Linked DNA regions of Homo sapiens. The protein of the gene in region 4 purifies or fractionates together with the protein of the main gene of each other region. This does not show direct contact. Each region holds a gene or a part of one and is shown on either strand. Other genes may lie near its edges.

The links. The genes of interacting proteins can lie anywhere in the genome.
Region 1: the proteins of EMID1 (region 4) and PPFIBP1 purify together in Homo sapiens (affinity purification with mass spectrometry; one large-scale study listed by BioGRID and IntAct). This does not show direct contact.
Region 2: the proteins of EMID1 (region 4) and MCM3AP purify together in Homo sapiens (affinity purification with mass spectrometry; one large-scale study listed by BioGRID and IntAct). This does not show direct contact.
Region 3: the proteins of EMID1 (region 4) and RAB32 purify together in Homo sapiens (co-immunoprecipitation; one large-scale study listed by IntAct). This does not show direct contact.

What each region holds. Positions count from the first base shown.
Region 1 is NC_000012.12:27,684,706-27,688,205, reverse strand, and holds part of PPFIBP1 (liprin-beta-1), read right to left. Parts: intron 822-3,500; coding exon 699-821; intron 1-698. UniProt on the Homo sapiens protein: May regulate the disassembly of focal adhesions. Did not bind receptor-like tyrosine phosphatases type 2A.
Region 2 is NC_000021.9:46,237,623-46,240,611, forward strand, and holds part of MCM3AP (germinal-center associated nuclear protein), read right to left. Parts: intron 1-2,989.
Region 3 is NC_000006.12:146,550,333-146,553,832, reverse strand, and holds part of RAB32 (ras-related protein Rab-32), read right to left. Parts: intron 1-3,500. UniProt on the Homo sapiens protein: The small GTPases Rab are key regulators of intracellular membrane trafficking, from the formation of transport vesicles to their fusion with membranes.
Region 4 is NC_000022.11:29,250,896-29,254,395, reverse strand, and holds part of EMID1 (EMI domain-containing protein 1 isoform 1 precursor), read right to left. Parts: intron 467-3,500; exon of another isoform or gene 306-466; intron 194-305; coding exon 109-193; intron 1-108.

The DNA of each region.
Region 1 (3,500 bases), on a different chromosome or scaffold from region 4:
TAAATGCAAAAAGAAAGGGAAAAATTCTCTTTTAAAGAATTTCTGTCATAGTTTGAGTTTCAAGCTTTCTTATATACTAATAAAGCATTGCTTTAGGAAAGGAAGTCTTTTTTTTTTTTAAGACAGGGTCTAATTCTCTTACCCACGCTGGCGTTGCAGTGGTATAATCAGGGCTCACTGCAGCCTCCATCTCCCAGGCTCAGACGGATCCTCCTACCTCAGCCTCCTGAGTAGCTGGGACCACCAGCGTGCACCCACCATGCCTGGCTAATTTATTATTATTTTTGTAGAGACAGGGTCTTCCTATGTTGCCCAGGCTGGTCTTGATCTCCTGGGCTCAAGTGATTCTTCTGCCTTGGCCTCCCAAAGTGCTGGGATTATAGGCATTGGCCACTATACTTGGCCAGAAAAGGAAGTCTTTATAGTGATATTTATCTCTGTTGATTAGAGTCAGGAAAAAAAAATACACCCAAGAAAAGGAAGAAGCATAACTGAAAAAGAACCCTTGGCTTTAGTTACACAAGGGGAACCGTCATGGAGAGAAAAGGAAGGAATACAGAAAAAGCCTAAGAAGTAAATGAGGCTGGATTTTAAGGCTTTTCCTGCAGGCTCCAAGAAAAATGGCTCTTAGTTTCGACACATGGACAGTCCCATGCCTGGGAAGTGCATGCTTATAAACCTCAATCTTAAAACACTACCTCATCAGATGGCCGCCTCCGTAGACAGTTTGGTTCAAAGTTATTGATCCTCAGGACCTGGATGGCCCTTTTGATACTGAGATGGTGTAGCACACTTACAACCTTCAGAGACAGTAAGTCATCCTGCAAAAAAGAACAAAAGGAGGAGCTCACTGTGCTGGCCTGTAGCAGGAGGACTTTCTTAGGGAATCTCAGAAAACTGGAGTAAAAGGAGAAGAGCCCCTCAAACCAATATGCCCCAAGGTCTTGTCAGAACCCACTTTCCCATTTGGAACAAAATCTTCCCCCAAACCCCAGATTAGTATTTTTTGCCAATGAAGCTGACTTCCACCTGTTTCTCTCTCTTCCAGATGCTCTGAGATCTGTAGAACCCCAGGGCTCTGAAAAACACAGTTAGAAAAGCACTTGCTGGGTCACTACAAAAGGTGATCTGCTTTGACTTGATCTGCACATACTACAAACAGGGAATTTATTTGTTTCCTCTTTAGTTTTGAGAACTTTATCGGTGGATAAAGTACTTAGGCTTTGGATAAACTGCCCTCTCTGTTTCCTTTCAGCAGATAGTGAAGAGCGAATGATGCTCATTGGTGAACATGATCAAGAGTTGGCTTTCTTTTTTCATCTTTTTTTTTTTTGGAGAGATAGGATCTCACTATACTGCCCAGGCTATCTCAAACTCCTAGGCTCAAGCAGTCCCCCGGCCTCAGCCGCCCAAAAAGCTGGGATTACAGGCGTGAGGCACCGCTCCTAGCAAGGCTGGGTTTTCTGAACTAAGGCACATCATAATTTTGGGGAAAATCAGAACAGTGCTCTTATTATACTATTCCCTGACCTTAATAATTCTCTAGTTCTAAATTATTTTTTAGTAAGGACCTGTCTGCTATTGAATAGCTCTAGATTATTATGGTTTATCTAGCAGACATTGTGAACAATTTTGGCACAACTATAATCAATCAGTGCAAAGGTTTTGGTCAGAGTCAAGGAGAGAAGAAAAATGAAGTTATAAGTATCACATATATATATTACCAATCAACCCCTTCAAGGAAGAATTTTCACCAGTCTGTGGCTCTTGGGAATATTTTCAAATATACCAAACACACCAAAACAAATTATTTCAGAAGAAGGTGATATTGGGAGCAGTATGAAGATAAGCAACAGTCTACTTCCAAACACACCCAGAAAATAAACAAGGAAAGCATCCATTTTAGACACACCTTTCTGATAAAACACTTCTCATGAAAGAAAGAAAAAAATGTAATCTACTACAGAAATATTTAATAAAAATATTAATCAGTTTAAATCCTTGAGGCTACTAACCAGGCAAAAATTATTTCCTGAAGTTTTTCTGGAGTAATTCCTTAAAAGTAGTGTCTTAAGACATGTTAGAAAGAGTACTTATTTTAATCTAGGATTGAGACACCCATTCCAAACATTTCAGTCTGGACTCTTTTCATCTAACTAGTCTGTCAGCTTAAAAAAATATCTGAATGCACAATGTTTACAGTGTGATTAAAATGTTAATTATTTTTGAAATTCTTTATACTTCGAAGGATTTTAAAAAGAAAGTTTTATTTTATATCAAAACAGACTTTCTGAGTGATTTTCTTCCCAATTTTTTTAAAACTTTTTATTTTAAAATAATTTTAAATTTGTGGAGGAGTTGCCAAAGATAGAATAGAATTCTGTATACCTTTCACTCAGCCTCCTCTAATGTTAACATCTGACATAATCATGATTACATTCATCAAGACTAAGAAATTAATGTACAATTGACTAAATTGCAGACTTTATTCACATTTCACCAGTTTGTCCAGTAAGGTCCTTCTTCTGTTCCAGGATCTAATCCACATTAAAACACATATTTTGTGACTTAGGATTTCTGGGGTCAAATTTTCCAGGGTCATTTACTCTTTTATAGCCATTTCACAGATGCTTCTTGTGATTTTAAGCTTGAATTTGTTCACATTCTCAGGGGGAACATACTCACACTTAGAGAGGGAGGCAAATATTTACTGAATGTGTTCTAGTCATAATCGTGAGCTATTAAAAGCAGGGATCTTGAAACAGCCTGAGTTCAAACTCTCTATGACTTTCTATTGCTAACTGTGGAAACTTGGTTACCAAGTTACCCAACCTCTCGATTCCTTCCTTTATACATGTAAAAAAGTAGGGATAATAATAGTATTATAATACTATAGATACACAGAGTGTGTGTGTGTGTGTATATGGATACACACACACATATATACAAACATGCATATATGTGTATGTGTGTGTATATATATATATACATACTCTATGTATCTACAGTATTACATATGTGTGTATAATACTATGTATATACAGTATTACATAATTATATAGTATATATGTGAACAAATTCAAGCTTAAAATCACAAGCAGCGTATGTGAAATGGCTATAAAAGAGTAAATGACCCTGGAAAATTTGACCCCAGAAGTCGTAAGTCACAAAATGTGTGTTTTAATGTAGTGTCCTAGATTAGATCCTGGAACAGAAGGAGGACCTTACTGGAAAAACTGGTGAAATGTGAATAGTCTTCAGTTTAGTTGATTGTATTAACATCTACGTTAATTTCTTAATTTTGATGAATGTAATCATGATTACGTAAGATGTTAACGTTAGAGGAAGCTGAGTGAAAGGTATACAGAATTCTAGCTTTGGCAACTCCTCTGTAAATCTAAAATTATCTTAAAATAAAAAGTTTTAAAAACTTTTTAATATATATTATACACACTATAATAATATTAGTAATATTAACTAAAAGGGTTATTGAGAATCCA
Region 2 (2,989 bases), on a different chromosome or scaffold from region 4:
CTGAACTCAAGTGATGTGCACACCTCAGCCTCCCAAAGTGCTGGGATTATAGGCATGAGTCACCACACCCAGCCTTAAGCCTTTGCTTTTTACTAAGAATATAACTAAGTTATGACATCAACTGAGAAGCAGAAATGTACTTATTAAAAATTTAACAACTTCCTATGATAAAGCTTAATTTAAAAAAAAAAACTAGGCTGGGCTCGGTGGCTCATGCCTGTAATCCCAACACTTTGGGAGGCCGAGGCGGGCAGATCACCTGAGGTCAGGAGTTCAAGATCAGCCTGATCAACATGGTGAAACCCCGTCTCTACTAAAAATACAAAAATTAGCCAGGCATGGTGACACGTGCCTGTAATCCCAGCTACTTGGGAGGCTGAGGCAGGAGAACTGCCTGAACCCGGGAGGCGGAGGTTGCAGTGAGCCAGATCACGCCATTGCACTCCAGCCAGGGCAACAAGAGCAAAACTCCATCTCAAAAAAAAAAAAAAAAAAATTAGAGAAACCACTTCCCTTTAATTTATAAATCCAATTCCAATTTATATTTAATGAAAAAGGTGGTATTAATCCAAAAACAACTGCTTCGATGTGTTACTTAACATTACTTGTAATTGTCTTGTTTGGCTTATCTTATTTAATTTACTTTGGTTTTATGCATCTATAATTAATTCTTCTGACATTTTCCAAATGAGTGGATTGCTGCTTATAGCTTAAAATTAACTCAAAATAATATCCCACTGCCACCTAACATACTCTAGAGCTGTCTACTTCCATATACCGGTCTTTTCAAGAAAAACAATCTTGGCCAGGTGCAGTGGCTCATGCCTGTAATCCCAGCACTTTGGGAGGCCAAGGCAGGTGGATCACCTGAGGTCAGGAGTTCAAGACCAGCCTGGCCAACATGGTGAAACTGCGTCTCTACTAAAAATACAAAAATCAGCCAGGCATGGTGATGGGTACCTGTAGTCCCAGCTACTTGGGAGGCTGGGGCAGGAGAACTGCTTGAACCTGGGAGGTGGAGGTTGCAGTGAGTCGAGATTGTGCCACTGCACTCTAGCCTGGGCAACAGAGCGAGACTCTATCTAATAAAAAGGAAAAAAAAATCTCATCCCAAACCACTTAAATTATAGAGACTGATTTTAGTAATCGGACACATTCATTCACCCTTCCAAAACATATTCATTAAGCCTCCTCCAGATGCTAGGCATCATTCTAGGTACAAGGAATATTGCACTGAAACAAAACAGAGGCCCTGCCCTAAGCAATTTATACTTTAGTGAGGAGAGACAGACAAGGAACACATAACAAGAGAAACATGGTTTGAAGATGAGAAAGACAAAGCAGAGCCATGGAAACAAGAAGGTCGGAGATGGGCAAGCAGGGCCTAACAGAAGCAGACATTTGAGTAGAGATCTGAAGTGAGTACAAGATCAGCCATGGGGATGCTGGGGAGAATGGAGGGGCTGGACAGTCCTAGGCAAAAGGAACAGCAAACTCAGAGGCCCAACTGTGAACTGCCTACCATGCTCAAGGAAGGAGCGGAGGTCAGAGAGGAAATGGGGGGCAGATCACTCAGGGCCCTGGCCACCCCTGCAAAGTTTGCCTTTGATTGCAGGTGAAAGAGGGAAACCACTGAGAGGCTGTAAGCAAGCAAGTGACACGACCTCCATCTTAACTCACTTGAAAGGCACCCACCAGGTCTACCAAGACTAAACTGCAGCCTACTGTAATAATCCAGAAGGAAGATGATAGTGGCTTGAGCCACGTGGTGGCCATGGAAGTCATAACAAGTGGTCCAATTCTGAATGTATTTTCAATAGAGCCAATAGGATATGTGAATGGGCTGATGTGAGGGGATGATTCCAAGGCACCTGATCTAGGCAGCTGGAAGGATGGAGCCGCCATCAACAGAGATGACCACCAAAGGAAGGGGTTGGTTGGAAGAAAGCCGGGAACTGGATTTGGGATATGTTAACTTTGCAGTGGCTACCAGACATCCAATAGGTGTCTAATGAAGATTTCAAGGAAGCAGTAGCATGTTCAAGTGTGGAGTTCAGAGGTTTGAGATACAAATTTGGAGCTGTCAGAATAGTGATGTTACTTAAAAATCCATGAAACTGGATGAAATTTCTGAGGAGTAGGTACAGACGATGCAGAGGAGAGGTTGAGAGAATGAATCCAGGGGGCAGCTGGGGGATGAGGAGGAACCAGCAGGGCAGGAGGGGGACCACGGACATCCTAGGAGCAAGGAGGGGAGGATCAAGTATGGGATGCTACCAAGGACTGGGATTCACGGTCATGTTCAACCCTGGGCCTTCATCCCCATGGGAAAGAAGGCTGAAGAAGTGAGTATCACAAGCGTTTTTGAGGAGTTTTACCATTAAGAGGGCAGAAACATGAAGTGGTGGCTAAAGAGGGAAGTGGGACCAAGACAGGGAGGCATGTTTCATGTCTGTGTGCTGCTGATGGGCACCACCTAATATGGGGAGGGGTGGTAGCACGAGAGAGATACTCATTGAATGAATGTCCTTGGGTAGGTGGGAGATGAGATCCCAGCCCAGGGAAGGGCTGACTGACTACGAGCTGCATGGTTCGTTTCCAGCAACAAGAGGCGTCAGGAAGGGGATATAGGGAGGATGCTGGATGTGGCTGGGAGGGCAGGGAAGGCAGAGGACAACCTGTGGAAGGTCCCTTATTCCTGATTCTACTCAGTAAAATGGTAAACATGGCCATCAAATGAAAGCAAAGGAAAGGTATGCATGGGAGGGAGGGAAGTGGGCAATGTAGAGGAGGGGCAGCCCCAGCTCCTGTCCATTCACAGCATGGGATGATCCACCAATGCCTCAGGCTCCCAAGGGCAGGGTGCCTGTGGCCAGCCATAGTGTTCAGCACTCACCATCTTCTGAGCAGACTTAACCACATGAATTTCCCAGAAAAACTTAACACTGACTTTCAATAATAAATAATAAATGAAATTCACTTCAATATA
Region 3 (3,500 bases), on a different chromosome or scaffold from region 4:
TTTAAATATATTTAACTGTTCATTTTTAAATAATTTTGGATTTACAAAAACATTGCAAAAAAAGTAAACATTCCTACCATTCACACATATTTCTCAAATGTTAACATCTTAGATAACCAGAATACAACTATCAAAATCAGGAAATTACATAATAGTGTTGTATCAGTGCTAGCCTAAAAAGCTTACTCAAATTGCATCAATTATCTCAATGCCCTATTTCAGATCCAGGATCATAAGCTATATTTCACTGTTGTCGCCCTGGTCTCTTTTACTCTCGAACAGTTCCTCACTCTCCTTGCTTTTCATGACCTTGACACTCTCAGAGAGCACTGGCCGGTGAATATACCTCCATCTGTGATGTTCGATGTTTCCTTATCATTAAATTCAACGTATGTATTTTTGGCAGAAATAAAACACAAGTGATGTACCCTGCACAGTTTATCAGGAAGCACACTGCTTCAAGTTGTTTTTGCCATGTTTCTCCACAGAAAAGTTATTATTTTTCCCTTTGTACTTAGTGCAAATATGTAAATATCCTGTTTCTCACCGCACTTTTCCCCACTAATGTTATCATCAATTAATTCCTCCCTACAACAATCATCACTGTGGTGTTTAATGGTGACTTTTTTATTTCTGCCATTCCTTCTACATTTATTAGCTGGAATTCTACTGTTAGAAAGAGGTTCCACACATGTATACATACGTGACTAACCTGCACGTTGTGCACATGTACCCTAAAACTTAAAAGTATAATAAAAAAATAAAAATAAAAAAAGAAAGAGGTTCCCTTCTCCCCCATTTCTTTATTCATTTGTTCATTTTTATCATGGATTATTAGTTTACTCTATAAGTTGAACCCATTACAGTAATTATTTAGTTTGTTGCTCAAATTGTCTTACATGTTTGGAGCTTGTATGGCAGTATCCTGTATCTTTGTCACATGTCCCCATCATTTTGTAAGCATTTCCTTAGTTTCTTGCACAACAAAATATCTCAGGCACATCTTTACTTGACTTGTTCCACCCGTCCTAAAATCAGGCATTTCTCTAGAGATTCCCATTCTTTTTACTGGAGAATGATATTTAAAAACCGAATTTTGAGCACGAGGTAAGTTAATTGGTTCTGTGGTGTCATTCCTTTTAAGCCCTCTCAGCAGGTATGGCTAGTAAATAAACGTATGTATACACACATGCATCTGTATCAACTTCTTTATCTGTTTACACATATGTGTGTGTACATACATATATCTATACACACTCACATATATATATGCATATACTCTTACACACACACACATATGAAACCTGAAGCTCATATTAATGTCTAATCCAATCCAATGCTATGAGGTTCATTGTAGCCTTTTTCCTTATTTGTAAACCCTTTCTCAGACAACAAGAAACCTAAAACAGCTGTGCTATTTACAGGCATCTTTCATAGCACTGAAACAAGCTTTTTATTTATTTTTTACCTCCACTCCCAAGATAAGTGTTAACTTTAATTCAAGTATTGATCTTTTGAATGTCCAAGTGACATTCAGTCCCAGCTATCCCCATTATATCAAATAATTATAAAATTCTCTAACTGTATTTGGAAGCAGTTGGTTAAAATTCCAATGATAGTGTAACTAGTCACATGTTAATGTAATTCCCATATGTTAATATTATTAAAGTTTCATATTAGAAATCCATTATTTGCCATAAAGGTGAAATGATGAAATTTATTTGCAAAAGTTATCTTTTGCCTATGTTCCTAGTGAAATTCGGATGACTGCAATTCAAGCAAAAGTCAGATCTGAAGTTAGCTGCAGGCCAGCTCAGAAGTGTACCTTAGTGACATTTAGGCAGTACTTTAAGCCTTAACTCTAAGATTTTTAACCTAAATTTTTTTATTACTGTTATTCTCTTGGAACACGTCTGGTTTACTGCTAAGGAAATTCTACAGAAGCTGCTTCTATTATATTTGTATGGAAGCACAGAGCAAACTTGAAACTTGTACTCTTAACCAGCGTTTCACCTTTCACCTCTGCGTGTAATCCTATCCATACATAAAGTGAAACCGATGACTTACACAGTCACAAGCTACTAGTCACATGACGTCTTACATCTGGGGGCAAATCTGGATTTACTATCTGAAAGATTAAATAGAGCCTAAAGGGGAATTTTGTCTATCATTTATAAAACTCCTCCACCAAAATGCACACTCGCATAAGCAGTTATACTTACTGCCCCTTTTTTTTTTTTCGTCTTTTTACAGCAAAGCTGGCAAGTAGAGCAAATCACCCAATAGGCATACAGAGCAGACAGAGGGCATGAGTGTCCAGAAGAACACGCCTGTAATCCTAGTGCTTTGGGAGGCTGAGGCAGGCAGATCACTCCAGCTCAGGAGTTTGAGTCCAGCCTGGGCAACACGGCAAAATTCTGTCTCTACTAAAAATGCAAAAAGTAGCTGGGCATGGTGGCACATGCCTGTGGTCCTAGCTTCTTGGGAGAATGAGGTGACTTCTCTATAAGAAGGCTTTCTTTCTGTGATTTTCTCCTTCGTGTCAGATTAAGTGCTCACATAGCACTCCTGGGCTTCATCTTTCTTCTATCACTATGTTTTATTTATGAAAGGAAATTTTAAGATGCTATATTTATTCAAACAATTAGCCTCTAGCTTAGGAGTGTACATTTCTGCCTGCAGTAGACAGTCTTTTTTTTCCCAGTGACTCCATCATTGCGCAATATTTTTGGAGCGGTCTCCTTTTGTGCAGTCTCTCATTGCTTCGCTTTTATCCCGCAGATCATCATTGGCATCAAGTAGTTTTTCACTCTAAGGGTAAGTTTCTAGTAGAGCTAAACCTAATCTGATTAGTAAATATCCAGAATGAGGTGGGTGATTTGGAGGAACAATCATACATACATACATATATAAAAACACCCGTAAACACACACAAGAAATCCACAGAACATAAACTAAAAGCTAGAACTGTGTTATGATTTCAACAAATTTATGGTATAATGTTTATCTGTCATCACAGAATTTTTCAAACATTTCATCATTCTTACATAAATCTGATTGTCACTAACCCCCTTATGTGAAAGTTCCAATGCACGTAACCCCCCCCCCAAACATTTTATATATGTATAATTTTCACCTTTTTTCTATATCTAGACTATTAAGATTTTTTTTTTTTTGAGATGGGGTCTCACTTTGTCACCCAGGCTGGAGTGCAGTGGCATGATCTCGGCTCACTGCAACCTCTGCCTCCCAGACTCAAGTGATCCTCCTGCCTTAGCCTCCCGAGAAGCTAGGACCACAGGCATGCACCACCATGCTCAGCTACTTTGTGTATTTTTGGCAGAGACAGGGTTTCGCCACGTTGCCCAGGCTGGTCTCGAACTCCCAGTTCAAGCGATCTGCCCGATCCATCTGCCTCGGCCTCCCAGACTGCTAGGATTACAGGCATGAGCCACCGTGCCTGGTCACTAGACTGTTAAGATTTTTGAAAGTCAACTGAG
Region 4 (3,500 bases):
CTTCTCCAGCCTCATGACTGGGCTCAGGCCAGTTCCACCCCAGGAGGGCTTGGGGAAGGCTGGCAGGCAGGGGCTGGGCCGTCTGTCCGTCTGTCTGTCTCTACTCACCATAGAGCCCAATCATTGTTTCCAAGATTAAAACCCTCTCAGCTAAAATCTTCAAAGCCTCGCGTAGCTGGTGCAACCCCTCCCCCTGTGGAGGAAAGAGACAGATGCAGCCGTGAAGGGGGCAGGGGAGGGGACCCTGCAAAGCCCGTCGGTGGCCCATGCCCCACCCGGGACATGCACCTGCAGCCCCACACTACCTGCCACAGCCCAGGGTCCATGGACAGCCAGAACAAGACCAGGTGAGGACAGGAGGGGGACAACAAGGCAGACGGAAGGAAGCAACCCCTGCAGGACCTCCCAGAAGGTCCCGTTGGATCCCAGCTGGCTGCTCTCTGACAAGGCCGCAAATCCTGCTGCGCTGAAGGCAGGGGGAGCCAATCTTCAGGGGCAGAACGGCAGTCCCAGAAGCTGCTGGGAGCCCTCCTGTCCTCTAATGTCTGTCGCCCAGCACCAGTTGCTCTCCCAACACCTGCATGACTATATCTCTTGGCCACCTATATGCTTATTTACTTCACATTCTTTTTGCTTTAAATCACCACATTAGCCTCACCCTAATTACTCCGATCAGTGAGTTCAGGCTACTTACCAGTATTTCCACTTATGCCCAAATGAATATATAGATGTTCCTTGACTTTCAATGGGATTTCATCCAGATAAACCCAGTGTAAGTTGAAAATATCACAAGTCAAAAGTACATTTTTTTTTGAGACGAAGTTTTGCTCTTGTTGCCCAGGTTGGAGTGCAATGGCGCGATCTCAGCTCACCGCAACCTCCACCTCCCAGGTTCAAGCGATTCTCCTGCCTCAGCCTCCCAAGTAGCTGGGATTACAGGCATGCACCACCACACCCAGCTAACTTTGTATTTTTAGTAGAGACAGGGTTTCTCCATGTTGGTCAGGCTGGTCTGGAACTCCTGACCTCAGGTGATCTGCCCGCCTCGGTCTCCCAAAGGGCTGGGATTACAGGCGTAAGCCACCGCGCCCAGCCAAACACATTTCTTTTTTTTAAGAGACAAGGGTCTTGCTATGTTGCCCAGGCTGGCCTCGATCTCCTGGCCTCAAGTGATCCTCCTGTCTCAGCCTTCCAAAGTGTTGGGATTACAGGCGTGAGCCACCATCCCTGGCCAAAAAAGTGCATTTTTGACATACAATATTTTCAACTTACGATGGGTTTATTTGGAAGTAAGTTGAGGAATGTACTGAAAGCCTATATTGCTTTCGCACAATTGTAAAGTTGAAAAATTGTAATTTGAACCATCGTAAGCTGGGGACCATCAGTATGTCAATAAAATTAGACAAGGTTTGAGTTACATTGCTTTTGGAGAACTTGCGCTTAAAATTCTGAGAAACCTGAGGCTCAGCACTCTGTCCCTTCCCCAGGTCTTCACGCTTTGGGCTCCCTGCCTGGAAAACAGTGCTCACCTCTCCCAGGGCTTAGACTATGCCAGGTCCACAATCTGGCACATCCTGATGCGTCACCCTCAGCCCAGCCCTCTCCTCTTAGCAGTACGGGTCTGCTTCTCCCTGTCTCTGGCTCCCAGACCCCAGGGATGTGGCACTGGGCTCACAAAGCCCCTCCTCCAAGGCCACCAGCTCTGGGGCTCCCCACTCCCCAAGTGGTACCAGCTGCTACCCAGGGCTCATGCCAGAGACCTCATCTCTTTCTCCCCATCTGCATCCTTTCCTTCCCCAGCATATGGTCCATAGTCTTGACAACGCTCCACACTCCCTCACTCCTTCCTCTTTCCTAGTCCAGACCAAAGCTATTTCCAGAATGTAGATCTCTCAATTCCAACAGTGCACCAGGATGACAAATAGAACTATCCCAGCTCTGACAACATCTGGAAATCTCTCTTGGTGCCCTTTACTCAGTACAGATAAGTGAAGGGATAGACAATATGCATAATTGTATAATTACAAGCCAACCCTTTAAGGTTGCTGCTTCCCACAAAACCATCTAAACAACTAAGAGGTCTCTCAATATGTCCATCATGAGTGAGCCTGCTCGCTGGGGCTGACCCTTGTGATCCAGCTGTCCTGTCCACATCACATGGATCGGGTGACCCTCAGGCCGCTGAATGGCCATTTCAGCCTGGGGGTCCCAGGGTCACCACGAGCTGCATGCCAAAGTAATCCCCTTTCGAGTATTACAGGGGCAGGATCTAAAAATGAATGACCTTCGCTAGGCACAGTGACTTACACCTCTAATCTCAGTGCTTTGGGAGGCCAAAGTGGGAGCATCACCTGAGGCTAGGAGTTTGAGACCAGCCTGGGCAACATAGCAAGACCCCATATCTACAAAAAATTTAAAAATTAGAGTGGGCACGGTAGCTGTCCTGTAATCCCAGCACCTAATGACACTTTGGGAGGCCAAGGTGGGCAGATCACTTGAGGTCAGGAGTGCAAAAGCAGCCTGGCCAACATGGTGAAACCCCATCTCCACTAAAAATACAAAAATTAGCCAAGCTTGGTGGTGTGCACCTATAGTCCTAGTTACTTGGGAGGCTGAGGCAGGATAATCACTTGAACCCAGGAGGCAGAGGTTGCAGTGAGCTGAGATCACACCACTGTACTCCAGCCTGGGTGACGGAGGGAGACTCCATCTCAAAAAAAAGAAAAAAAAATTATTTGGGTGTGGTGGCACACACCTGTAGTTCTGGCTACTGTGGAGGCTGAGGTGGGAGGTTCACTTGAGCACAAGAGTTTGAGGCTACAGTGAGCTATGATTGTGCCACTGCACTCCACGATGGGTGACAGAGCAAGACCATGTCTCAAAAAACGCCGGGGGGGCTGGCATGGTGGCTCACACCTGTAATCCCAGCACTTTAAGTGGCCAAGGTGGGAGGATCACTTGAGCCTAGCCAGGGCAACATAGTGAGACCCCATCTCTAAAAAAAAAAAAAAAATGGCCAGATGCAGTGGCTCACGTCTGTAATCCCAGCACCCTGGGAGGCTGAGGTGGGTGGACTGCTTGAGCTCAGGAGTTCCAGACCAGCCTAGCCCACATGACGAAACCCCATCTCTACTAAAAATACAAAAATTAGCCAGGCATGGTGGTGTGCGCCTGTAGTCCTGGCTACTTGGGAGGCTGAGGTGGGAGGATTGATGCCCAGGAGGCTGAGGCTGCACTGGGCTGAGATCGTACCACTGCACTCCAGCCAGGGCGACAGAGACCCTGTCTCAAAAAAAGAAAAAATTAAAAAATTAGCCAGGCGTGGTGGTGTGTACCTGTAATTCCAGTACTTTGGGAGGCTGAGGTGGGAGGGTGGCTTGGGCCCCTGAGGTCGAGGCTGCAGTGAGTCATGATCATGCCATAGCACTCCAGCCTGGGCAACACAGCAAGACCCTATCTCAAAAAATAAAAAATAAAAAAAGATGATCTTAAAAAATTCC